3 separate regions of the Homo sapiens genome follow, and regions 1 and 3 are each linked to region 2. Evidence: fine-mapped expression QTL. A gene starts in region 2. Each other region holds a variant in brackets. All regions are shown on one strand. Distances are from middle to middle.

The links. PIP is the estimated chance that this variant, and not a neighbour inherited with it, causes the effect.
Region 1: its variant is fine-mapped to the expression of FAM20C in blood mononuclear cells (TOPMed, PIP 0.97). The same link has a PIP of 0.9 or more in monocytes.
Region 3: its variant is fine-mapped to the expression of FAM20C in whole blood (GTEx, PIP 0.95).

The regions. Positions count from the first base shown.
Region 1 is chr7:78,786-86,961 of GRCh38, forward strand. All of the region lies in intron 1 of LOC105375113 (a long non-coding RNA gene), which reads right to left. LOC101929756 (a long non-coding RNA gene) reads left to right here. Exons shown (of 3, transcript NR_187733.1): 2 at 1,345-2,509; 3 at 4,130-4,564. Among named protein-coding and RNA genes, the nearest start is that of FAM157D, 47 kb to the left of the region's middle. RefSeq lists enhancers at 2,745-3,517, 3,518-4,288, 5,582-6,305, 6,306-7,029, 7,754-8,176. The variant A/G (reference allele first, on the strand shown) is at 3,402.
Region 2 is chr7:188,488-196,663 of GRCh38, forward strand. It overlaps FAM20C (FAM20C golgi associated secretory pathway kinase), which reads left to right and starts at 4,084. Exons shown (of 10, transcript NM_020223.4): 1 at 4,084-5,317; 2 at 7,067-7,245. The coding sequence starts at 4,713. LOC124901808 (a long non-coding RNA gene) reads right to left here and starts at 1,631. Exons shown (of 2, transcript XR_007060632.1): 1 at 1-1,631. RefSeq lists enhancers at 1-436, 6,861-7,838.
Region 3 is chr7:107,275-115,450 of GRCh38, forward strand. It overlaps LOC105375114 (a long non-coding RNA gene), which reads right to left. Exons shown (of 3, transcript XR_926959.3): 3 at 5,382-8,176. Among named protein-coding and RNA genes, the nearest start is that of LINC03015, 38 kb to the right of the region's middle. RefSeq lists an enhancer at 1,400-2,116. The variant C/T (reference allele first, on the strand shown) is at 3,660.

The DNA of each region.
Region 1 (8,176 bases), 110 kb before region 2:
CAGGGCACGGCTTGATCTCAAGGCCCTCTCTTCTCGTCCCACCGCCCCTCCCTCCTGTGACAGGAGGACCAGCAGTTCCACTCTGAGCCCGGCTGAGGCCCGACCTCCTCCACCTCAGCCCTGAGAATCTTCTCCAGCTGGGATGGCTGTTGCCCTGTTGTCCTGTTGCCCTGTTGCCCTGTTGTTCTGTTGTCCTCTTGTCCTGTTGTCCTGTTGTCTTGCCCTCCCAGCTCCTGACCACACAGGGGCTTTGTTCCCGCGCCAGCCTCTTTGGGGAAAGTGGGGGAGGGGGGCCCTGCTCCAGGCTCTGGGACATTTGGCTTGGGCTGTAGCCTGTGTCCAAGGAGAAGAAACCCTGAAGGTGGGTTCCCACCAGATGTGGGCATGGTCAGCTACATCAGGCCCCCAAAGGTGTGCACATCCTAATCCCACGAACCCGTGGGCACGTTACCTTACATGCAAGAGGGGCTCTATGGATGGAGTCGGGATAAGTGTCTAGAGATTGGGAGGTTGTTCTGGGTCATCCAGATGACTTATGAGAGGGCCCTTATGAGAGGGAGACAGCAAGCTCACAGAGAGGGCCATGGAACAACAGCAGCTCAGACACAGCAGAGGCCGCACAGCTGTCCTGGGTGCCGAGTAGCTGCAGAGGTCGGAGGAGGTGCAGAGCAGGTGTTCTGCAGCCTCCAGAGGGACCAGCCCTGCTGACTCCCTGGCTTTGGCTCAGTGAAACTCATTTCGGACTTCTGAGCTCCAGCTCTGCAAGAGAAGAAATCTGTGCTATTTTAAACCACTAAATTTGTGGTTTCTGTTTCAGCAGCAGTGGGAGAGGGCGAAATGCTCTCCAGCTTGGCACCCGCAGCCCAGCTCAAAGGCAGGGACTGTGGTTGCTTTGCAAATGAGGGAGGCTGGGTCCCTGCCCTCACCGGGCTTACCATCTAGGTTTGGAGAGGAGTGACGTAAGGTGAAGTCAGAAAAGAATCATAAGAAAAGAGAGTCCACACCCTGGAAGGATCTGAGGCAGAAGGAAGCTCTTGCTGAACCACCTGAGAGGAGGCGGTCTGGCCTGAGCACCCTGGGGGGCCTGCGCCCCCACTTCGAGGCCCCTCTGGAAGGTGCTTGGCTCTCCGGATGACCCCAGCACTGGGGAGACCCGCTGTGCTTTCCAGGCAGCACAGACACCTCGGTGTAGGTGTTGTGGTGCCACAGGGAAGGGTGTTTCTTCCAGCCTGGTTCTCAGGACGGGCTGCTGGCTGGAACAAACCCCACCTCTATCTGAGCCACCAACCATCTGAACCGGTATTCTCTCTATCTGACAAATATTCCTCCTTCTTTACATCCCAGAAATGGTGAAAATGCACAATGCCTCAGGACGCCTTGAGGAAGGAGCAGCGTGTTGCTGCTGAGGGTGAACACACGTGGTCTCTGAGGAGAGGCGACAGATCTCCCTGGGCGTCAGTCATCCTGGGACTGGGTGTCGTGGAAGAAGGTGACACCAGGCAGAAACCAAGAGCAGGGGAGCTGCAGGCCGGTATCAGAGCCCGTATCAGAGCAGAGTGGCCCCTGAGCGGGGAGGCAGCTGGAGCTCACTGTTGGAGGAGGGCCCGGCACCTGCACCTGAGGACATGAGTCTGAGGCCTGCGGAGAAGCCAGGTGAGACACCGCTGTGCTTCTCTGGGCCACGGCCCCTCACGGCTGCATCCAGTCACCAGAGTTCCTCTGTGCCTCACCCACCCTTGATCATAGAAGACAGCCTGCATGTCCTCAGCTCTGTCCTCCAACCGGCTGCCCGGGAGGCCTCCCTGGCTGCTCCCCAAACTGCACGTGCCCTGAGTCAGCCCTGGGGCCTCATGGACTCCCCTGTTCACGCATCCCGGCAGCGCGCAAACCATCCCTGTCGGCTCCCAGTGAAATGCTACAGGATCTCAGGGCAGCTGCACCCCGCAGGTTCAGAAGGGATGGGATTCTGTGTCCTTTTCCTTCTTGCTTCAGACCTTCACCTGGGGCTCTAACACCGAAAGTCTGTGCCAGACAGAGGCATCCACAGCGACAGGAGCCTGGGCCAGGGCGGCCATCCCTGCTGCAGAGACAAATGTCAGTGTCCATGGAATCAGTTCGGTGCGGTGAGCGGCAGGTCTGATATGAAAGCTACTCGCACTTCCCGTCTGGGCAAGAGCAGGAACTCGGCAGGCAGAGAGCTGGTGGAGCTTTCCATGGGAAAACCAGAACCTTCAAAGAGCCCGGCCTCCCTCTGATCAGCCCCTTCTTTCTGATCAGATGCATTATTGACGAGGCAGCCTCCTCCACCTGCCTCTCATCAGAGCAGCTCGTTTCCCACCGTGGTAATTTATACTTGTGATTTTGGCCTTGATCAATAAAGGCAACGGAGAAGACGCACCCGTTCATTTCCTACAGGAGGGGCGGAAACACACAGGCCTCTGTGCAGAGCTTTCCTGGGCTCTTCTGAAGGCAAGCAAACCCATCAAAGGGAAGATCTGCACGCTGAAAGGTCAGCAGTTCCCTTTTCCCCATGGGATTTGTGTTAGCAACTTTGCGAGTGGAAGATGCATTTGGAACTGCCAGTCCCTTACAGCCCTCACATGGGAGGTGCAATGTTCATCCTGTCACTATTTTAAAACTCGTCTCAGGGTTGGGAGTAACTGAAACCGTTTTGGGCTTAATTTTGCATGAGGACGTAGCAGAGCATGACAGAAGGGAAAAAGAGAAAATGCTGGCAAAGGAGAAATGGCCCTAAGAGGGAAGCCGGATCCCTAGCTGGGTCGGAGTAGATGAGCGGGGAATGAGGGGCTGGAGGATGCAGCTCCGAGCGTGCAGGGGTGGTGTGCTCTCGGGAGGGAGCTGCTGTGGAGCTACTAAGGAGGGAGGCTGAGGGGTGGGAGAAAGCCCAGGGCTGTAATCGTAGCCCCTGGAGCCTGATTTAAAAGACTGGAGGAGGCAAAACCTTTCCTGGGTGACATCCATCCAGGGCATGACCCTGCGGCCTCCGTGTCTGCTGTGGGCGAGGCTGTCCCTGCAGCCAGCCCTGCCCCCATCCCTTCCCTTCTAGGGATGTTGGAGTGTGGGGCAGCCCAGCTTCTGCCCACAGCACAGATGAGGAACTGAGGATGCAGGGGCCCGTGGGGGACGGCACACGGTCAGCCCAGAATTAGGACCTAAGGTTGGCCCTATGGGTTCCTGCAGCACAGACGTGCAGCATGTGCACCCACATGTACACACAATCAGGCATAGCCACAGAGAATCACACCCTCCCACGCACACCCACACCCACACACCCTCCCACAGGCACACGCGCACCCTCACACTCATGGTCTCGCCCTCCCACAGGCACACCTACACTCACCCACGCCTACAGGCACACAAGCACACACTCCTTTCCCCCC[A/G]CAATCCCTGCACACCCGTGGGCACCTATGCTCTCGTGTGGTCTGGATCTGCCCTCTGTGTGCACAGCCTGTGCCTGGCCCAGCGTGAGTGACTCGTGGATGCTCTGCAGGTGAGACCTGAGGTGAGTGTCCTGGCACCGCCCGGGCCTGGCTATCGGGAAGCTCCGCCCAGACGGCCGCCTCCTCCCTGGCGCGGGCCTCTTCCCTAGGAGGAGCTCGTTAGCTTGTTTTTCCATCGGTATTCTTTGTCCCCAGTCACCCGGACCTGGGGCTGGGCACTGCCAGGGGCAAATGTGCCATGTGGAGAGGCCAAGCGGGGGACAGGGGCGGCTTGTCCGCCAGGTGGCACCGAGGCGGCTGCGTGTGGGGCAGTGTTCCCACTCTCGTCACCAGCCCGCACTTCCCGCTGCCTCTGAGTATTCTGTGGGGGCTGCCCCGGCTGCAGCCCCAGGTGTAGCCTGCTGGAAATCTCACGGTGTCCAGGCCCCATCCCTAACCGGCCCGGGGCATCCCTGATTTCGTGCTCACCGAGAGGGGCCTCCCTCGGCCTGCCCAGCTAAGAGCCTTGCAGGAGCCCTTCTCCAGCCTCACACTGCCAGCCCCTTTGAATTGCAGCACTCAGGTCCCCAGGAAAGGTGTTTTTATCCAGTTAGCTGTTTTTTATACTTATGAAAAAGCTCCGTCGCTTGGAGCAAAGCAGAGTTGATTTTCAGATGTGATTTCTGCAGGCAGAGCAATGTCTGGTTCCTGCTGTTTCTTCTGATGGGCGCGGCGGTGACTGAGGGTGTCCTGCGAGCCGTCGGTGAGCGCTCAGCTGTCCTGGTCTGCAAGTTCCTACTGACATCACAACCTGCTGCTTCTCTCTGTCCTTAAGGGTCAGAAGATGGAGAAAAGGTTCATGTTTCCACCCCTGTATTCTGTTAGGTTCGGGTTTTTGAGAGAGGCTTGTGGGGAAGGGGCCGTGTCCCCACTCCTTCCTTTCTTCTTGTACACATATTTACATCCACTGATTGAGTGATTTACAATCACTCAACATGATTGACGGAACTTCTGGCACTGCGGAAGCTGTGCTAAGGCCTGGGCATTCATGGGACATGGAGCGTGCAAGAGCTGAAGTTTTAATGACTTGCTTGCAGAAAAAGATCAAGTTTTACAACAGAAAATTATGGGGCATAATTTCTATTGTGGCAAGGGACCAGGGCCGTCTCCTGGAGGAAATCTGGAGAGAACATGCCACAGCCAGGCCGGCGTAGAGAGAGGCTCTGGCAGGGGCCCCTCCCAACCCACCCCTGCATGCGTGGGGCTTCTGCTCAGCAACAGGGGCGCAGCTCCACTTTCAAAGTGTGAGGGGCAGGGGCTCAGGTCTCGGATGCCTTCACCACCTGCCTGAGTCGGGCATCGGGCAGGGAGCGTGCGGGGGCCTCTGCCTCTGCTGGCCCAGATGATTCCCTGGCCCTCCTCAAGTGCAGCTCCCATTAAATAGATAGAGCCGGGCTCTGAGCCACGAATTGGGCCAAGCATCCCAAGGGGGTGGAACCGAGTCAGGAGTCAAGACCAGAGGCCAGGAACTGCCCACGCCCATGTTCCTTCCACAGGGCCAGCCTGTCCGGTGGCAACACTAATACCATCCCATGAAGCCTGTGAAAATTAAAGGGAATGGTGCATGTTTAGAGGCCACACACAGCAAGTAACCAATGAACACCCACCCTTCATGCTTGGTTTTCATCACTGGGCCAGCAGGGGCGGAGGCCCCAGCACTCTCCCTGCCTGATGCCCGACTCAGGCAGGTGGGCTTGAGAGCCCCTCCCGGGGCTCCAGGGCTCTGAAGGCATCCAACACCTGGGCCCCTGCCCCTCACATTTTGGAAGTGGAGCTGTGCCCGTGCTGCTGAGCGAAAGCCCCATCCAGCTCTCCGAGAACCAGACGAGGGGCAAGGGAGATGAAGTCTTCCTGGAAACTTGGACTCCAGCTGGTGTGGGGGTCAGAGCAGCAGGCTGAGCCTTCAGGGGGCCTCCGGCAGGCTCCCAAGGCTGCGCTGTGCGTCTCTTCCACCACACGCACTGGGGCATGAGGCCAAGGGCATCGTCTGCAGAGCGAGAGGGAAACTGGGGTGGCAGGGCTTGCGGGCGCAGGACAGCGCCAAGGGGCTTTCGTCTCCCAGCATTAGGACGACCTTGTCCTCTGCCCCTGTCTGGGGGCCGCTGGGTCCCTCCTCACAGGAGCGAGGCAGGCAGCTCTGGTGCAGGGCCGGCCAACAGGCCTCAGATCTGGAGTCACAGACCCAAGGACGAGGACAAGGGCCCCACACACCTCCAAGCAGGCCCTGAGGTACTGACGGGCAGGCAGGACCCTCTGTGACCCTTCCTCACTCCTCACCCAGAGAAGCCAGGAGAGCGGGATGCCGAGGGACTGGAACAGAGAAGGCCTCTTGCAGGGGCTCATGGACAGGAAAACAGAGGAGCCTGCCAGGGCCATGGCCACTGGCAGGACAAGTGCCCACTGGAGCCAAGGCCTGGGCAGGGGAGAGGTCTGCAGAGCAGAGCCCGGCCCTGGGTTCCCACAGAGGCGGCTCGCACAGTGGCTGATTTGCCACTCGTTCACTCAGTTTAGTGAGCAGCACGTGAAATGCTAAATCCGTGTGGGCTCAGGAGCAGCCTCAGATGAGGAGAATCCCACAGTTCGTCGGTGAAGCCCCCACCCCAAATCTCCCACAGTCCTGCTCATGCCCAGGGCGGCAGGTGTCCTTTCTAATGGGTGAGAGCCAGGAGCTGGGGGCTGCGTGCGCTGTGGCCCCTCACCCATGGGGGCCTTCCAGGACCCCAGCAGATGCCTGAAACCGGGGAGTGCCCGACCCTGGAGAGTGTCTTTTCCTATACACACATATCCACCTGTGTGGGTGCGTAGCTGAGTGTGTATGTACACCTGTGTGTGAAAATATCTGTGTTTGCATTGGTGTGTGTGTCCATGAGTTTCTGTGTCTGTGTGGGTGTGTGTGCCCATGAGTGTGAGTGTGTGAATGTGTGTGGGTGTGTAGGTGAGTGTGGATGTGTGTGTGCGAGTGTGAATGTGTGCCCCGTGGGTGTATAGGAGAGTGTGTCTGTGTGCGTGTGCAAATATGTCTGTGTTTGTACTGATGTAAGTGTCCATGAGTGTGTGAGTGCTTCTGTGTAGGTGTGTGGTGTGAATGCATGTCTGTGTGTGCCTGTGTGTGTGTGTGTCCATGAGTGTGTGAATGTGTACCTGTGTCAGTGTGTGAGTGTGTCAATATGGGTGGGTGTGTCCTCCGTGAGTGTGTGCGTGAGTGAATGGTGTCTGTGTGCAGGTCCTCACCATGGGCCGTGTCTCGAGCACATGTGCCCCTGCCTCGGTGGACCGCACGGCCGGCTGGGAGACACAGCCCAGGTGCAGGGCACTCCACCTTTCAGGGCAGGCCTTGCTCGCAGCAGGTTTTCTCCCAAATCTTTGTCTCTCATCTTATCTGGGCGGAAGGTTTTACCAATGAGAAGCAGAAAGGCATTCTTTTCCTCCTTGCTGCCTGCTGACAAGAGGCAGCCAGCCGACCACTTGAAAGGGAGCCGGTACAGTTAGGCTGGGAGGGAAACTTGGATCACAGCCTGGAGATGGTGCGGTGTCCAGCCACTCTGCCGGGAGCTGGGCACTGTGTCTGACACACCGTTGCTGCTGGCCACTTCTAGTATTATTATTTCTGCTCTTTCCTTTCCTTCATCATATGCTCCTGGAAGGGGCTCAGAGGTGTCCCCACCTTGCCTGTCCTGGAAAGTTGTCTCAGAAGGCCCTGTCCCGGTGGAAAGTGCTGGTGGCTCTGGGTGTCTGGGCCTGAATGGTGGGGTGTGGTCCGCTTGGCTCTGAGCAGAGCGCCTCCATGACAACGCCACAGTGTGCAGGGAAATGGGGGTGGGTGTGGGGGAAGCTGGGGGGTACCCCCACTCCTACTACCTTGAGCTCAGACCACCCTCTGCAACTTCCCTGGGGACCCCCACGGCCACGGGCCCTGGTCCAGTGGTGGGCTCTGCTCAGCCCAAGGGCTTTTGGATTAGAGTGTTACCAGCTTCCTGAGCCCATCCCCACCGCCTGACCTCGGCCTTGGCCTCCTGAACTCATTCTCAGCCTCCTGAGCTCGTCCTCAGCCCCCTGAGCCCATCCTCATCCTCCTGAGCTCCTCCCCAGCCTCCTGAGCTCCTCCTCAGCCCCCTGAGCCTGTCCCCGGCTTCCTGAGCTCCTCCCCAGCATCCAGAGCCTGTCCCCAGGCCCTGAGCCCATCCTCAATCTCCTGAGCTCTTCTTCAGCCTCCTGAGCGGGTCCTCAGCCTCCTGAGCGAGTCCTCAGCCTCCCAAGCCTGTCCTCGGCCTTCTGAGCTCCTCCCTGCCCTCCTGACCTTGTTCCTGGCCTCCTAAGTTCATCTTAGCTCAAGGAGAAGGTCTTGGCTCCTCCTGCCTCCAGCAGCCCCTGGACTAGATGCCTAGTTTATCAGCAACCCAGATCTGAGCCTCCTATCTCAGACCCTGGACCATGGAGCTGTGGGCACCAGGGAAAGCTCTGGGGCCTGCTTGGCTTAGATAGGACCATCGGCCCCAGTGCTGAGCCTGGCTTAGGGCCACCCAGGGACGTGTGCTCTTCATCACTTCCTTCAAGCCAGTATCGCAGTGTCAGGAAGACCCGCTCTGTCCTGGTCACAGCGGTTCCCTCCTGCAGGACCCTCAGAGCCACAGGGCAGCAGAGAGACCTGAGCAGATGGTCCTGGTTCCACGGGGCTC
Region 2 (8,176 bases):
TGCCCTCCTGGTGTCTGGTGGTGCCAGGGGGCAGGCCTGGTCCTCAGGCCTGGGGTCTTCTGTCCCCCCTTATCCTGGGGAGCCCATCTGTCCCCCTCATTCCTGGGAAGCCCGTCTGCCCCCCTCATTCCTGGGGAGCCCGTCTGCCCCCCTCATTCCTGGGGAGCCTGTCTGCCCCCCCCATTCCTGGGGGACCCATCTGTCCCCCCTCATTCCTGGGGATCCCATCTGTCCCCCTCATTCCTGGGGAGCCCGTCTGCCCCCCTCATTCCTGGGGAGCCCGTCTGCCCCCCTCATTCCTGGGGGGCCCGTCTGTCCCAGGGCTTTGCATACTGAGGCCTCGCAATCCACAAGCTTTCCTAATTCCCAGCTCATCCACATGACAACAGCCCTTCCCCGGGGGCTCTGGCCGACCTCCCTTCGTCCTCACCACACAGCTGCTCTCCCTGCCCCGCCCTTAGCCCTCCTTAGACCCATCCACCCGGCCCCTAGGTGAGCCTCTCCCGACCCAAGACCCAGCGTCGTCCCTCTGTCCCCAGCCTTCCCACGGCCCCCTCACTCAGGACGCAGCCCACAGCCTGGCCCCACCTGCAGACCTTACAGAGGCCACTTGGCCCCTCACACAATGCCCACCTCACAGGCCTTCTCTCCCCGCAGAGGGTCAGACATGCCCCTGCCCCAGCCTTGGCATTTCCACCCCGCAGGCCTCCACGGGGCTGAGCCCTCAGGTACCAGCTTCTGTGCAAAGCCATGCCTGGAGGCCTTCCTGGGCCACGTGGTCTAAGACAGCAATCCCCTCACACCCAGAGCAGGCAGCCCTCCCTGCCCGGGCCGTCTTATTTTCCTATGTCATTCCTGTCACCACCTGGCGCTCACCTTGGCTAACTGGAGCTCCAGCCCCTTTGGACGAAAAGAGCTCCCAGAGCCACTCCCTGGTCTCTGATGGGGCTGTGTGTCCTCTCCAGGTGCCCTCCCCGACAGCCAGCCCCTCCGCCTCTGCACAAGGGAGGGCCCAGGGAGGCTCAGGGCCTGTGTGGCTGTGTGTGTGTCTCTATGTGTCTGTGTGTCTGTGTGTTTCTGTGTATCTATGTGTGTATGTGAATGTGTATCTGTCCATGTATCTGTGTATATCTGTGTCTGTGTGTGTGTGTATGTCTGTGTCTGTGTGTATATCTGCGTCTGTATGTATATATGCGTGTCTGTGTGTATACGTGTCTGTGTACCTGTGTCTTCGTATGTCTATGTGTGTATTGGTGTGTGTCTGTGTGTGTCCATGTGTGATGACATGTGTATCTGTGTCTATGTGTGCATCTATGTATATCTGTGTGTATGTCTTTGTGTATCTATAGATCTGTGTCTATGTGTATATTATCTCTGTGTTCATCTGAGTATTGTATGTCCATGTGTGTCTACATGTGCCTGTGTCTGTATCTGTGTCTGTCTATGTGTCTATGTGTGTATCTGTGTGTCCGTGTGTGTGTGTCCATATATCTGTCTATGCATGTATCATCTGTGTGTCTGTGTATTGTGTATCCATGCATATATCCGTAACTATGGGTATGTCTGTGTGTGTTTGTGTCCACGTGTGTGTATCTGTGTGTGTCTATATATCTGTGTCTATGTGTGTGTCTGTGTCCACGTGTGTGTATCTGTGTGTGTCTATATATCCGTGTCTGTGTGTATCTGTGTGTATCTATGTGTGCATCTGTGTGTGTCTGTTTTCTCTTTGTTTTTATGGTGTCCACGGATGGGCCGACTGAACCACCAAATTCCTCCTCAGAGCCCAGTAAAGGCACCAGGCGGAAGGGTCTGGCGGAGGGTTGGCCGCTGTCTCCTCACTCCTCAGCGGGGTCCTGTCTTCCGACTTTTGTCTCGCGCCGCCGCAGCCTGTGGACTCCTGGGCCCTCCTCTGAGAGCCTGCGCTGTGCCTGGCCCCGGGCGGAACTTTGAACGAGGCTCCTGTCTTAACTCGACTGCTTGTGCTTGGGGGAGATAAACAATAAACAGGAGCAGAAGAAAGTGTCCTCAGACCACGGCGGGTGCTGTTGGGAAAACAGTGGCGGGGCAGGGAGGGGGGCGCTTCTGAAGGACCTGGCGAGGTAGAGGCCACTGTTCTAAGAGGCAACAGACGAGATGAACCAGGACCCTCTGCGAGGGAGGGAGGCGTCCAGGGGTGCACACGGGTCCAGATAGCTGCCGGGCTCCCAAAAACCACTCTGGGGGTGAGGATGGGAGGGGAGAGGAGTTGGGGGCAGGAGGCAAGTGAAAGTAAGTGCCCAGGGAACCTCCATGAGGCCCCCCACACCGGATAATAGTGTTCCATGGGGTCTGCTCAGCCCCATGTCTGCCCCAAGACACTAGCCACAGCTCTGCGTCGAGGTCCTGTAGACCACGGGAGAGATGGGGGGGCCAGGAGCCTATAGAACTCCAAGTCCAAGGGGACCCTTGCTGGGAGAACACAGGCCAAGACCTTCCTTCCTGCCACAGGCTTCTGTCCCTGCTGTCTGCTCCCCCAGGACTCCCCCCACACCCGGGATCTTCCTCCTCACCCTCCTTGGCCTCTCTCAGTGACCCTGTCTACACACAGATGTGCTGTCCATGTGAGTGGAAGGAAGGAAGGATGAGGTCCACTCACAGGGGTGAAGCTGTCTCCTGAGGGGGCAGCCCACCTCCAGGTCACACCGCCCCACCCAACACAGCCTCCAGTCCAGCTCCAGGTGGGCCGCACCCAGCCCTTCACTCACTTCAAATGGCCCAAGACGCATGGATTCCACTGGCCAGCCGGACTGGAACAACTTCTCCCCTTATAAGTATCTAGTGGGTGCCCACGGAATGCCAGGCAATGGGCCAGGCTCAGAGATGAGTGATTCCTCAGGAACAATGGGCTCAACGCCCTTAATTCACATCAGAGGAAACTGAGGCTCAGAGAGGGCGGAGAGGGCCCTGGTAACACAGCCAGCCGGTGAAAGTAAGAGGGGGGGCCCAGGCCCTGCTCCCGGCCCACCCGCCTGGGCTTGCTGGCGAGGCTGCTGGCCCAGGCAGTCTGGGCACTGTGGAAGCAGCCGGCTTGAGGCACAGGGGATGTGGCCTCCTCCCACACACTTACCTCCCTGACTACATCTTAGGCTGACATCCAGATTAACTCATATTCCCTACAGGGAGCTGCACGGCCAGAAGCTGCTGGTTGCAGAAGCCACCAGCTGGTTGTACAAGCACCGCTCCCCTGGTTGTGGGTGACAGATGAGATGCACTCACGTGAACACACATGCATGTGCACACACACATGCACACAGACGCACACACAAACACACACAGGCATACACACGCACACGCACATCCACACACACACATGCGCACACACACGCACACGCCTGCACTCACACACCCCCGTCGGCCCCAAGCAGGAAGGCGCCCCCGGCACACCAGCCCCTCTCAGCGCCCCCAGCGGGCCCGGCGCCTGGAGGGTTAAGGCGGGCGCGTCCCGCGGGTGGGCGGGGGGGGGGGGACGGGACCGGTGCCGGGAGCTCCGCTGCCCTGGCGTCCCCTGGGTCCAGGCCCAGTCGCTCCTTGGGCCTCTCTCGCGGGGCCGCCTCCGCCTCCTCCTTGCCGAGACGGGCGTGGGGCACGGGGTCGCCGCCCGGCGGGGAGCTCATCCGGCGGCGCAGACGCCCCGCGGCTCCGGGGAGGGACTTGGCCTGGGCCCCGGCCCCGCGCTCCTCTGGGGAGGAGCCGAGAGGCTGCAGCTGGCGGCGGCGGCCCCGGGCGGGAGGGGGTCCCAGGAAGCGGCCAGGCCGGAGCCCCCCACTCGGCCGCAGCTGCTGGCCTGGCCAGAACCGAGCGCGCCCTCCCGGTCTCCGCCGCTTCCCTCTGCAAACCGCGGGCAGGAGGAGCCCTCTCCTTAGCGGGCCCGGAGCTCAGAGGCGTCGCGGGGCGCGGCCGAGGGGAGGAGGAAGGAGAGCGGGAGCGCAGCCGGCCCGGGCCCAGCCGTGACTCGTGGGGCGGCGGCTCCGCCAATCTGTGGGCGCTGACGCGGGGGGCGGCTCCGCGGCGCTCGATATCTGCCCGCCCGGGACGCGGGGCGCCGAGAGGCTCGGCCAGGCGGGAGCTGCGCTCGGGGCGGCCGCTGCACCTGCCCGGGACCCCGCCGGCCGCTCCCCGCGCCCACCCCTTCCGCCCTTCGCCCCCCCCTTCCCCCCAGCCCCGGTCTCCCGGGCGCGGCGTGAGAGCAGAGCCCGGCCCGGAGGAGCCGCCCCTTCCCCGCCCGCCCGCCCGGCGCCTGGAGAGGAGCGCGCTGAGGATCGGGACGCCTGCGGCCGCCGCCACCGCCCAGGCCCGTCGCGCCCCGGCCGGGATGGACCCACACGCCCGATGAGCCCCGCGCCGGCGGCTGCGAGCGCCGAGCCTCCCCCTGCTGCGGCCCCAGCCGCCCCCCGCGCGCCCGGCTCCGCGGACCAGGACCCCTGGGCTCCCCGGCTGAGGGCGCGGCCGCTCCGGAGAGGCCGAGCGGGGACGGGCCCGAGATGGCGCGGGGACCCAGCGCTCCGGCGGCGGGCGCCCTGCACGCGGCCCGGGCCCGGGGACAGCCCCGGAGCTGGTAGCCGCCCGGCACCGATGGACCTTGACCCGCGAGGCGGCGCCGCGCTCGTGCCCAGCTGCAGCTAGAGGGGCGCGCGGGCAGAACGCGCTCCAGGCCCGGGCCGGCCCGCGCGGCCATGAAGATGATGCTGGTGCGCCGGTTCCGCGTGCTCATCCTGATGGTGTTCCTGGTGGCCTGCGCGCTGCACATCGCCCTGGACCTGCTGCCCAGGCTGGAGCGACGCGGCGCGCGGCCCTCGGGGGAGCCCGGCTGTTCGTGCGCGCAGCCCGCCGCCGAGGTGGCCGCGCCCGGCTGGGCCCAGGTTCGGGGCCGCCCCGGGGAGCCCCCGGCCGCCTCCTCCGCCGCCGGCGACGCGGGCTGGCCCAACAAGCACACGCTCCGCATCCTGCAGGACTTCAGCTCCGACCCCTCCTCCAACCTCTCGTCCCACTCGCTGGAGAAACTGCCGCCCGCGGCCGAGCCGGCCGAGCGCGCCTTGCGGGGGCGGGATCCCGGCGCCCTAAGACCCCACGACCCCGCGCACCGGCCGCTGCTGCGAGACCCCGGCCCGCGTCGGTCCGAGTCGCCCCCCGGCCCCGGCGGAGACGCCTCCCTCCTGGCCAGGCTGTTCGAGCACCCGCTTTACCGGGTGGCGGTTCCGCCGCTCACGGAGGAGGACGTCCTGTTCAATGTGAACAGCGACACCAGGCTCAGCCCCAAAGCGGCGGAGAACCCGGACTGGTGAGTGGGGGCTGGCAGGTGCCCACCCCCAAGGGAGCCGTGAGCCCAAGGCATGGTGTAGAGAGGTTCAGGGGCCCCAGAGGGCCGCCCCCCATGGAAGAGGCCGGGCAGGGAGTGTGGTGCGGGAGGAGGCAGCCGCCTACCTCAGGGCGCTGCCTTTGTCTCCAGAATAACCTCCTCCTTGGGAGGGGCTGCCGGCTGGTCCGGGAGCTGTGCCCTGTGGCTGCTGGTGAGGAAGCCAGACCCCGCGCCCTTTAGAAGCGAGTCCTGACCAGCCGTGGTCACCAGCTTGGGAAATGGGGTCAGGCAATGAATGAATGAGTTGGTGAGGGAAGGAGCCAGGCTGCCGCTGGGCTTTCAGACACTTGGCGAGGGTGCTCTGGGTGGGCACCTTGGAGAAGGTCTGGATGTGCCTATTGAGTCTTTTAAACCCAGTGGCTGGAGCAGAATTATCAGAGGGGCTTGCTGGCAGCCGTGAGGTGCAACAAGGCGGCCCAGCCAGCAAGGGCGGTGGGTGTGCTGGCTGCAAAGAGATGATGGCTCGATAAAGGGCGAGAAGCCACGGCAGGAACCTCTCTTTAAACTGTCCTGGCTAAGCCCTTTCCCCACCCCCCGGCCCCTCCCTCCGCCACACAGATCAAAACAAGCAGATGCTACACCGAAGCAGTGGAACATTAACCACGACAAGGCCAGAATAAGTAACTACCTGCCGAAGGTTACCCCAGCAGCAGAGGGGGAGACCAGCCTTCCAAAAGATCTGGTTGAAAGTCCCTTCTTCCCTGAAATGTCCAGGCCCAGTGTCTTCTGTCTAAACACACTGGCTGTTTGGAAGCCTCTGAGCCTTGCCTGCTGGTCAGGTTCAAGGAAATGCTTGGAAATTTGAGAACCAGAGCATTGGCCTGGGCTGTGGCTCTCGGCAGGGAGAGACGGCCGCCCAGAGCAGCGAGTGGCCAGGAAGTGTATCCTAGCCCCCCACCCCGCCCCCGTGTCCACCGCAGGACAGAGCTTCGGCAGAAAGCACCTCAGCTTTAGGTGAATTCGAGCTAGGACAAGTTCCGCGTTTCCCTCCAGCCCAGCAGGCAGACGGAGGGTCTGTCCCTCCTCCAGAACGGTCCCTTGACCCCAGAGATGTGAGGACAGGCTGCGTGGGCGGCGGGTCCTCCATGGGAGCCTGGGCTGGAGAGAGTGCTGCCTCCTTCCTCTCTCCCCACCCAAGGCTGCTCTCATTAAAATCAAATTTAGCCTCTTGCATCATTGTGCCCCTGGTTGTTGGAACAAAAGCAGAGAGCTGGGGAAGGTTCCTGACAGACTGGGCGTGTCTGTGAGTTTCATGCAGCCTGTGGTCAATGGTAGGTTCTCCCCTCTACTCCAGGGGAGGGCCACAGCCCCTCGCACCCTCAGCTGAGGTCATGGTTGGGCCATTTCGGTGACCCTGGGACAGACGTGGCGGGGATGGCAGGGCAGCGCTGACGTCCTGGAATTAGTTTTGCTGTAGTTAGAGCTGTCTGTGGTGTCTCCAGAGGGTGAGTAAGAATTACAGGCCTTTCACCGTGTTATTAGTTGGCAGCCGAGCGGCCACAGAAGAAAGCGCAGACGTTGCAGGGCCCTCTTTAAGCAGAGGCGCCTTCAACACATCTGCACTTGCTTGAACCCAAAGTTAAAAACACTGGCGTCGGTGCCCTCTCCCCGTCATCCGACTCACGGGCCTGTTCTTTCCATGCTGATGTTCGTCCTCGCTGCTCCCTGCAGGCCGCATGCGGGTGCTGAAGGTGCAGAATTCCTCTCCCCCGGGGAGGCGGCCGTGGACTCCTATCCCAACTGGCTCAAGTTCCACATTGGTATCAACCGGTACGAGCTGTACTCCAGACACAACCCGGCCATCGAGGCCCTGCTGCACGACCTCAGCTCCCAGAGGATCACCAGCGTGGGTAGGTGTCCTTGGGTGCACTCAGGGCCGTCTGTGTGCCGGCTGTGTGGCATCAGGGCTGCTGGGGCAGGCTATGTGTTAGAGAGGTCTGGGAGGCCGTTGCTCATTACGGCAGCGTCACCTCCTGCAGCAATCTGCACGGGCAGCGAGGAGGGACAGAGGGCTCGCGTCTCGTGTGCTCTCACACTGGATGTGCTCCTGATCTGCCGCACGATGAGCGGGGAGACGCCTGGACAGCCGGTCCACTGCGCTCTGCGTCCTCACCTGGGTGGTCCCGGGGGTGCCAACTGGATGACAGAGTCCTTCCCTCCTGGGGTAGAGGAATAGAGGGGTATCTCTGGCGGCGGTGACCCCTCCACCGGAAGCGTGTGCATGGAACTCTCCTGCTTTTCTACACACGACCCTGGCTGGGTGGGGAGACAGCCATGAGCCTGCTTCTTGTGGTTTTGAAGCCGTCCTTCGTCAGACCTCAGCAAGGCGCTGTGCAGTTTCATACTGAGGAGACATAGGCAGGGCTCAGGACGGAGGCCTGGGCCTCCCAGATGGAGGAGTTTGAAGGCAACATCTCCAGGTACTTTGGGATCTGCTGAATTGGACAAAAAAGGGCATCCAGTTGCTGATTTCAGGAAAATATGCCACTGCAGCTTCTGAGCGTGGAGGTTTGGTGCCATTGTTCTCAGCTTGTAGGCGATTGTTTGTGAAGGTCCCATTTGTCACCAGTGCTTGGAGAGGTAGTGAGGGCGGGGCTGAGGCCCTTTAGTGGGAGCAGCTGCTCCCCGGGGATTGCAGGGAGTGGGCCTGGGTGCACACAGCTGTGGGCAGGTGCAGAGGCCATGACAGCCTGAAGGCAGGGCTTTCTTTGCGCTGTGTGATGAGGCCAGCAGTCCCAGGCATTAGCTTCATGTGTGTCTCAGAAGCAACCTTGGTGCTGA
Region 3 (8,176 bases), 81 kb before region 2:
TCCCCACAACCCGTGACCCCAAACTAATCACAGGAAAAAGATCAGACAAGTCCCAAATGAGGGACATTCCACAAAATACCCAACCAGTCCTCCTCAAAACTGTCAGGATCACTAAAAATAAGGAAAGTCTGAGAATCTGTCACAGCTGCGAGGGCCCTAAGGAGACATGAGGGCCAACTGTAACATCATACTTTGGATTCTGAGGTAGAAAATGGATATTAAGGGAAAACTGAGGGAATGTGAATAAAGTATGGACTTTAGTTCCTACTACTGTATCGACATGGGCTAATTCACTGTGACAAAGGTACAGTATAATGTGACAGGGTAAGAGTAGGGGAACCTGGGTGTGGAGTATACAGGAACTCTGTGCTATCATCACAATTTTTCTTTATATCTAACAATGTTCTAAAATGAAGTTTATTTTAAAAATAAAAAATAAAGACAGGGGTCCTTGATATCAATAAACCCCATGAAAATACATTCATTAATAATCAGGGAAGCACCTCCCCCAGCACATGTGCATATGACACCCATGCACACACTCAAGCACACGTGCACATGACACCCAGGCACACACTCAACCCAAGCACATGTGCACATGCACACCTGTGCACACACACTCAACCCAAGCATGCATGCATGTGTGCATCTGTGCCCACAGTCAACCCAAACACGTGTGCACCTTACACCCATGACACACCCAACCTGAGCACATGCACACATGCTCAACACAAGCACGTGCACACATGCATACCCATGCACACACAATGCAAGCACATGCACTTCTGTGCACACACATGATGCAAACACATATGCATTGCATGCCCATGCCCATGCAGTCAACCCAAACACGTGTGCACATGCACATACTCAACCTGAGCACATGCACCCATGTACACATGTGCACACACACTCAACCCAAGCACACATGCACATGATACCCATGCACACACACTATGCAAGCACTTCTGCACATATGTGCATGTACACATGCACTCCATCCAAGCACATGTGCACATAGACACCCATGCATGCTCAACTAGAGCACATAAGCAGATACATACATGTGCACACACACACAACCCAGGTATGCATGCACATGCACGTCCATCTGCACACTCAACCCAAGCATGTGCACACACACACACTTGTACACACACACTCAACCCAAGCACATGTGCAGTTGCACGAATGTGCATACACAACCCAAGCACACACTCAACCCAAGCACAGCTCACCAGGGACAGAGGCCCAGGAACAGACTCTGACAAAACAATGAAGAGAATCCAAAAAGCAATTACACTGCCAAGTATTACGCAAACACAATTATTGGAATTGCTAGTCAAAAACGGTTAATAGAATAATTAAGATAGATTGACCTAAAAGCTGATTTTAAATTAACCTGACATGTGCATATACTATCTAAATAATACTCTTTCCTCTGATTTAGTCTCTCATTAAAATCAGATTTCATTGGGAGAAATTATACATTTGCACCATCATTGGGAAGAAGAAGCCATGTTCACTCACCCACTGATGAAAATAGGAGATTATTAGAGGAAGTAAAATGGGAATATATTTTCCTGGCCTTCCCTGGCACAGTGTGATCTGTCCCTGTAATAAACCACCGCTTCCTCCTAGCCTGCCACTCGGGAGGTGAGGGAAGCCAGTTAAGATGGCCTCAACTAAGGACCCCAAACCACTAGTGTCTGTGTGTGTCTGTGAAGCTCGCTCACGGGGGAAGGGCCCGTGGGGTGGGCAAGAGCAAGGAAGAGAAATGAGCACTTGGAGACGCCAGGCAACCAGGAAGACCCAGAGGAAACTCGGTACGTCTGCATTGAACACGTCTTCATGGGTGAGAAAACTGCAGCCAAGGAAGGAGAGGGATTGTTTCCAGGCAAACAGCAAGCGCTGGCAGAGAGGCAGGGACAGAGGCTGTTTTCGGCATCCAGCATCTCTGTTCAGCTCATGATTCCCTGCCACACCCCAGATAAAATGAACCCCTGTGGGGGTTTGTCTGTGCACGCGTCCAGGGCCTATCCTGGTCTGTGTGAACAGACTGGCCCTGCATCCCAGCACAGAAGCCTGGGCTGAGCACCAAAGGCCCCCAACTGCGGGAGGCAGGTCCTGGTCACTGCTCCCTCCACGGCCATGGCTCCAGTGTGCAGATCTCAGCTAGTGTCTAAAACACGAAGGCACTGGGTCACTACAGCTATGGGCCTCCTTGTTCATTGAAACCCTTGGAGTTACCTCGTTAACACTTTTTAAATGGATAGCCACTTCACATTTTTTAAGATAAAGAATTTCCCCATTAAAATTATTGAGATTCAGTAATAACACATTATTAGGATAAGCAGGACATGTAAGATGCTACAAAATGATCTATTACTTGGAGGATTTTAAAACCCTAATGAGAAAAACGCTCACTACCATTTATTCGTTCTCTTAGCCTTCAGCACCATTAGTCTGAGGAGCAGCATAGGGCTGGGGCTGGCTGCATCCACACTCACCCCTCTGATTGCTCCAGAACCTTTTCTTCAAAGAGAAATCTCTGCACTCTGCAGGGACGGTAAGTGGCGACCCTTAGGTAGCTGAAAGCACGGGGAAAAGAGCAGGAAGAGGTGGGAACATGGAGATGGAGAACACAGGGAGCGGCACGCTCAACGCAGGTGGAGTCTGTGTCCCCTCCAGCGATAGCCAGAACCAGGACCACCAGGGATCCGACATCACTGGCCCCATCCCGTAGGGTGGGCTGTGGGCAGGGAACAGCTGAATCGCCAGGCCACTCTCAGACCCTTGGCAGACACAAGGAATAACAGCTGTGGCCGCCGCTGTGGCCGCAGTCCCAAAGTTTGGAGAGAAATAGCAGCAAGTAGCAGCACCACTGTCCGTCAGCTTGAGTGCTTCTCGGACAAAGGAAGACAGTTCTCCTGTTTCCCAAAGACTTGCAAAGGCTGTGTGTTCCTCAGGCAGCTACTGCGCCATCGGCCTCTGAGTGATAAGGAAAGGAACCAGGGCTCAAACCTACTCCTGAGTGAGTCAAAGCAACTCCGCACTCCCTGCCAGCACTGAGGGTGACCCCCGAGCCCTGCTCAGGAGCTGTGGGGCCCGAGATCTCCCCTCCGCCCCGTGGGCAGGGGAAGGGCAGCAAAGGCTCTCTGCCACGCCTGTGTTCGGGCTCCAGAACTCTTGGCCTGGTGTCTGGAAGATGGGATTGCTGCCTTGGACAAGCCTCTCCTCCTTGCTTTTCCCTTTTTCTCACAGTGGGGTTTAAGCTAAGGTCCTATTCCTAGATCACTAATAATGATAGCAGGTGCCATTTATGAACACCTACTGTATCCCAGTGCTGCTCTCAGTGCTGTACCTGTATTCTCTCATCTCATTCTCTCAAGGGCCCAGTAAGGTAGCCACTTCATTAGCCATCTTTTACTAAAGAGCAGACTAGGCACAGAGACGGTAGGTCACTTTCTGAAGGTCACACAGCGAATGCAGGTGAGAACCAGGCTGTCCACGAAGGAAGTCTGACCCCTGATTGGGCTGTAATCACTGTGCTGTGCAGACACCCTCTCCATCAAGACCCTTCTGTGTTGCACCCCCCACCCCCACCCCCTTCTCTGCTTGGAAATGAAGTAGCTTTCAGGGGACTCTTATGAGGCTCC[C/T]GCCTCCCCAGGCTGGCCCCACACAGCCCCAAGACAGGAGCCCCCAGTGGCGCCTTGGTGGGCTTCTTGAGGGTTGCCTTAATCTTCCCCAGCCACCCACGGGAGACACCTGAGGTTTGTGGCTTGTGCCACGCGGCTCCAGGGCCTCCAGCACCCACCTGCAGACACGGCTTCAGCCGGCCCATGCTCCTTCTGTTTCTTTCGCTAGCTTGTTTAGGTTTCATTCACAAACAGTAAAGCCCATTCATGTGACAGTTGTATACAGTCATGTAACATCTACCACAGTCAAGATGTGGAACATTTCATTCTCCTAAAAAGTGTTCTCCTGCCCCTTTAGATTCCCTCCTCCAGCTCCCAGCCCCAGGCAGACAGTGATCTGATTCCTGTCCCTGTAACTTTGCCTTTCCTGGAAGCTCATAGACATGGAACAGTACTCTATCTCTTCCACTTAACTTGATGATTTCAAGACTTATCCATGTCGTGTAGGCTTAATATTTTGTTCATTTTTTATTAATGGGTAGTATCTCATAATATGCATGCACCGTAGGTTACCAACTTGCCTGTTGATGGGCATTTGGGCTGTTTGCAGTTTGGATGTATTACAAATAACATTGGTGTGAGCACTTGTGTCCACGTCTTTGTGTGGACATATGTTTTCATTTTCCTGGGGTAAATATTTAGGATTGGAATTGCTGGGTCATGTGGTAAGTGAATGTTTTACCTCTTAGATAGTGTCAGTCCATTTTCCAAAGTATTTCCATTTAAAATTCCAACCAAATTTCATGCATTCCAATTTAAATTGTATGTAAATTCCCATTGTTCTATATCCTTGTCAACACTTAGTATTGTCAATCTTTTTAACTTTAGACTGCTTTTAATGTGTACTCCTCTGATGGCAAGTGACGTTGATCATTTTTTCATGTGCCTATGGGTCATATATCTTTTTTGTCATGTATTTGTCCAAGTCCTTTTCAATTTTTAACTGCAGTTTTCAAATTATTGATTTATAAGATATCTTCATATATTCTGAGTACAAGCCCATTGTCAGATGTGGATTTTGTAAAATTATTCTGCCAGTTTGTAGTCTGCTTTTGCATTCCCTTAACTCTGTTTAATTTTGAGCAACCTTTTCAATTTTGCTGAATTTGTTTTATCATTTTTTATCATCTGTGCTTTCACATCTTGTTTCTAAAAAATGTTTATTCTAGCCCAAGTCATAAAAATTCTTCTGTATGTTTTCTTCTAGAACTTTAAAAGTTCTAATAATTTTCAGTCCATGATCCATCTCAAGATAATTTTGCATGTGGTGGGAGGTAAGGCTTGAAGGTTATTTTGTTTTTCCATGTAGATATCAACTTATCCTGGCACCATTTATTGAAACAGCTAGTTCTGAAAGAATTAAATTTTTACCTTTACCAGCAATCAAGGGACTATATAAATGTGGGTCTTTCTGACTTCCCCTTCGGCTCAGTTGGCCTCTGTGTCTTTCCTGATGCCAAAACCACACTGTCGTGATTACCATACCTGTATAGTAATTTTTGAAATCAAGTAGCGTGGGCCCCACAACCTTGTTCTTATTTTTCAAAGTTGTTTCTGGATATTTTAACCCTTTTGTCTTTCCATGTAAATCTTAGCATCAGCTGTCTCATTTCTTCAAAAGGACCATAAGTGGCACGGTAGTATATTGATGAGCAAAGACATACAATCGATTTTTCTATGAAAGTTAAATGCTGCAACTTGGCTAAACTAATTTTATTTGTACTAATAGTTTGGTTTTTATGGTGGTAAAATTCACATATTATAAAATTCACTATTTTCACAATTTTGAAGTGCACAATTCAGTGGCATCCAGTGCGTTCACCACGTTGTCGGCCCCAGGACATTCGCATCACCAAGAAAGGAGACACCACATCAATCGAGGTGTCACTCTCTGTTCCTCCCTTCCCCCAGCTCCTGTCACCACTAACCTGCGTTCTGCCTCTTTAGATCTGCCCATTTCGTATAACTGGAATCATATAACATGCGGCCCTTTGTGTCCGTCTTCTTTCACTCATCATGTTTTCAGTTTCAAGGTTCATCCATATTGTGGCATGTTAGGGCTTCATTCCTGTTTGTGGTTGATGAGTAGACCACGCTTTCTCAGTGCCTATGCTAGTTGTTTGTAAGTTTCTTAAGATACTTCCTCATACATGATTCATGATATCTGCATAAAGAGGCAGTTCTTCTTCTCCCTTTCCAGTGTTTATGCTTTAACTTTAATGTCATTTAAAGCTACCTGTGTCTCTGTTCTTCAAGTGCAATTTTGGAAGACAGCATGTGTGTGGGTCTTGTTTTCATATCTATTCTGACAACCTCTGCGTTTTACCTGAAATCTTTGGTCCACTCATATTTAAATAAGTATTGACATGGTTATGTCTGGGTCTGTAATTTTATGCCTCGCTCTCTATACATACCCTCCAGTTCCCCCCTTTGTTTCTCATTTCTTAACTTTTTTTAGGGTTACGTGAATATTTACTGATTGATTTTTCTCCTCATTATATTTTGTGAATATACGTGAATATTTATTGATTGATCTTTCTCCTTATTAAGCTTTTTCAGCATGGTATCACCTCAGTAGTAGAGCATAATCAGTCCTAGACTAATTTAGGCCCCACCCAAAAAAGCTTAAAATCAAGCCTCAAATATATCAAATTGTTTCCAAGTAAAGTAACTTCATCCCTGAAAAGTTTTAAAATAATTTTAGGAGTGCAAAACTATCCAGGATCTAACAAGGAAAAGTACATGATGTCTAGCATACAGTAAAAAATCACCAAGTATGCAAAGAGGCAGGAAAACACATCATGTAATGAGGAATATCAACAAATTGAAACTAATTCACAAATGGCACAGATGAGGGCATTCCTAGACACAGATGAACTGTAGTTATTATCACTCTATTCCACATGATAACGTTAAGCAGAGATATGAAAAACATTAAAAAGTCCCAATTCTAACTTTTAGAGATGAAACCATTTCTGAGATAAAGAAAATTCACTGGATGAGATGATGAGATTAGACAGACACTACAAAAGGAAAGATTAATGAACTTAAAGGTATATAATAGAAACCATCCAAAGTGAAACACAGACAGAAAATAGACCCCTTCAAAAGGAGCAGAAAGCTAATTGGGGGGCAACTTCAATTGGCCTAAAATTCATACATTTAGAGTCCCAGAAAGAAAACAAAGAAAAAAAAACAGAAAAAAAAGGAGGACATAATGACTGAAATCTTTTGAAATTTGCTTTTTAAAAGCTACATATCCCAGTCCAAAAAGTATGAAGTACGAAGAAGGCACATCTTAACCAAACTGCTTAAACTGGGTAAGAACGAGACAATCTTAACAGCAGGCAGAAGAAAAGAGACGTGCTGGGTACAGAGGAACAAAGACAAGGATGACGACAGGTTTCTCCTTGAAAATGAGGCGAGCTAGAGGACAGTGGAACAAGCTCTGCAAAGTACTGCCGGGAAAAGCCTGTTGATTTGTGATTCTGTACCTGGCAACAAAGGTAGAAACAGGGTGAGATATCAAGTTTTTCAGACATATAAAAGCTAAAATATTAATCATACCAGCAGATAAGCACTAAGAGATATTAAAGAAAGTCCTTTGGACAAGAGGAAAATGACATTATAGGAGACCCGATAGAAGCACAGGAAGGAAAAGCATGTTTTGCTGGGTATAGAACATGTAGAGAAATAAAATATGTGCCCACAAGGACATGAAGGAGGGCAGGGAATGGAAGTGTGCTGCTGTAAGGTTATTAAACCATCATGATGTAGTGTAATATTATTTGAAGATAGATTATGATAAGTTGAAGGTGCACACTATAAACCCTAAAATGTATACACACACACGCACACATACATATGTACAGACAGAGTTATGGGGAATAAGCCAACAGAAGTGATTAAATGGGATGATTAAAAAATACCCAGTCCAGAAGAAGGCTGGCTAAGAGGAACAGGAAACAAAAAGTAGACAGGATAAATAAAATGCAAATAGCAAGATGGTGGTTTAAGTCCAACCATTATCAACAGTGATGGTAGATGAAAATGATCTATAACCATTGGTCTAATTCAGTGGCAGTTTGTCAGACTTAATAACAAAGCAAGACCCAACTAATTGCTGCCTACCCAAAACCCACTTTAAATATAAATTCACAAATACATGAAAACTAATGGGATTTTAAAAGATACACTGTACTAACACTAGTCAAAAAAAAAAAAAGCGGGAACAGCTATATTAATATTGAACAATGAACACAACCAGCATTATAAAGAAGGTCATTTTGTACCAGCCTTTAGCTGGGCTTCTTTTATCTGCTTTGAGTGTGTGCAGTTCAGGGCCAGTCGGAAACATGAGTAGAGTCCGCCAAGTTTCCCCTTCTGGACGCTCCCCCCCTCCACTGGCCACAGCTTCCCCAATTTCGTCCTGCTCCTGTTCCAGGCCATGAAGACTGTGGTCTTCCCTGAGGACCCCC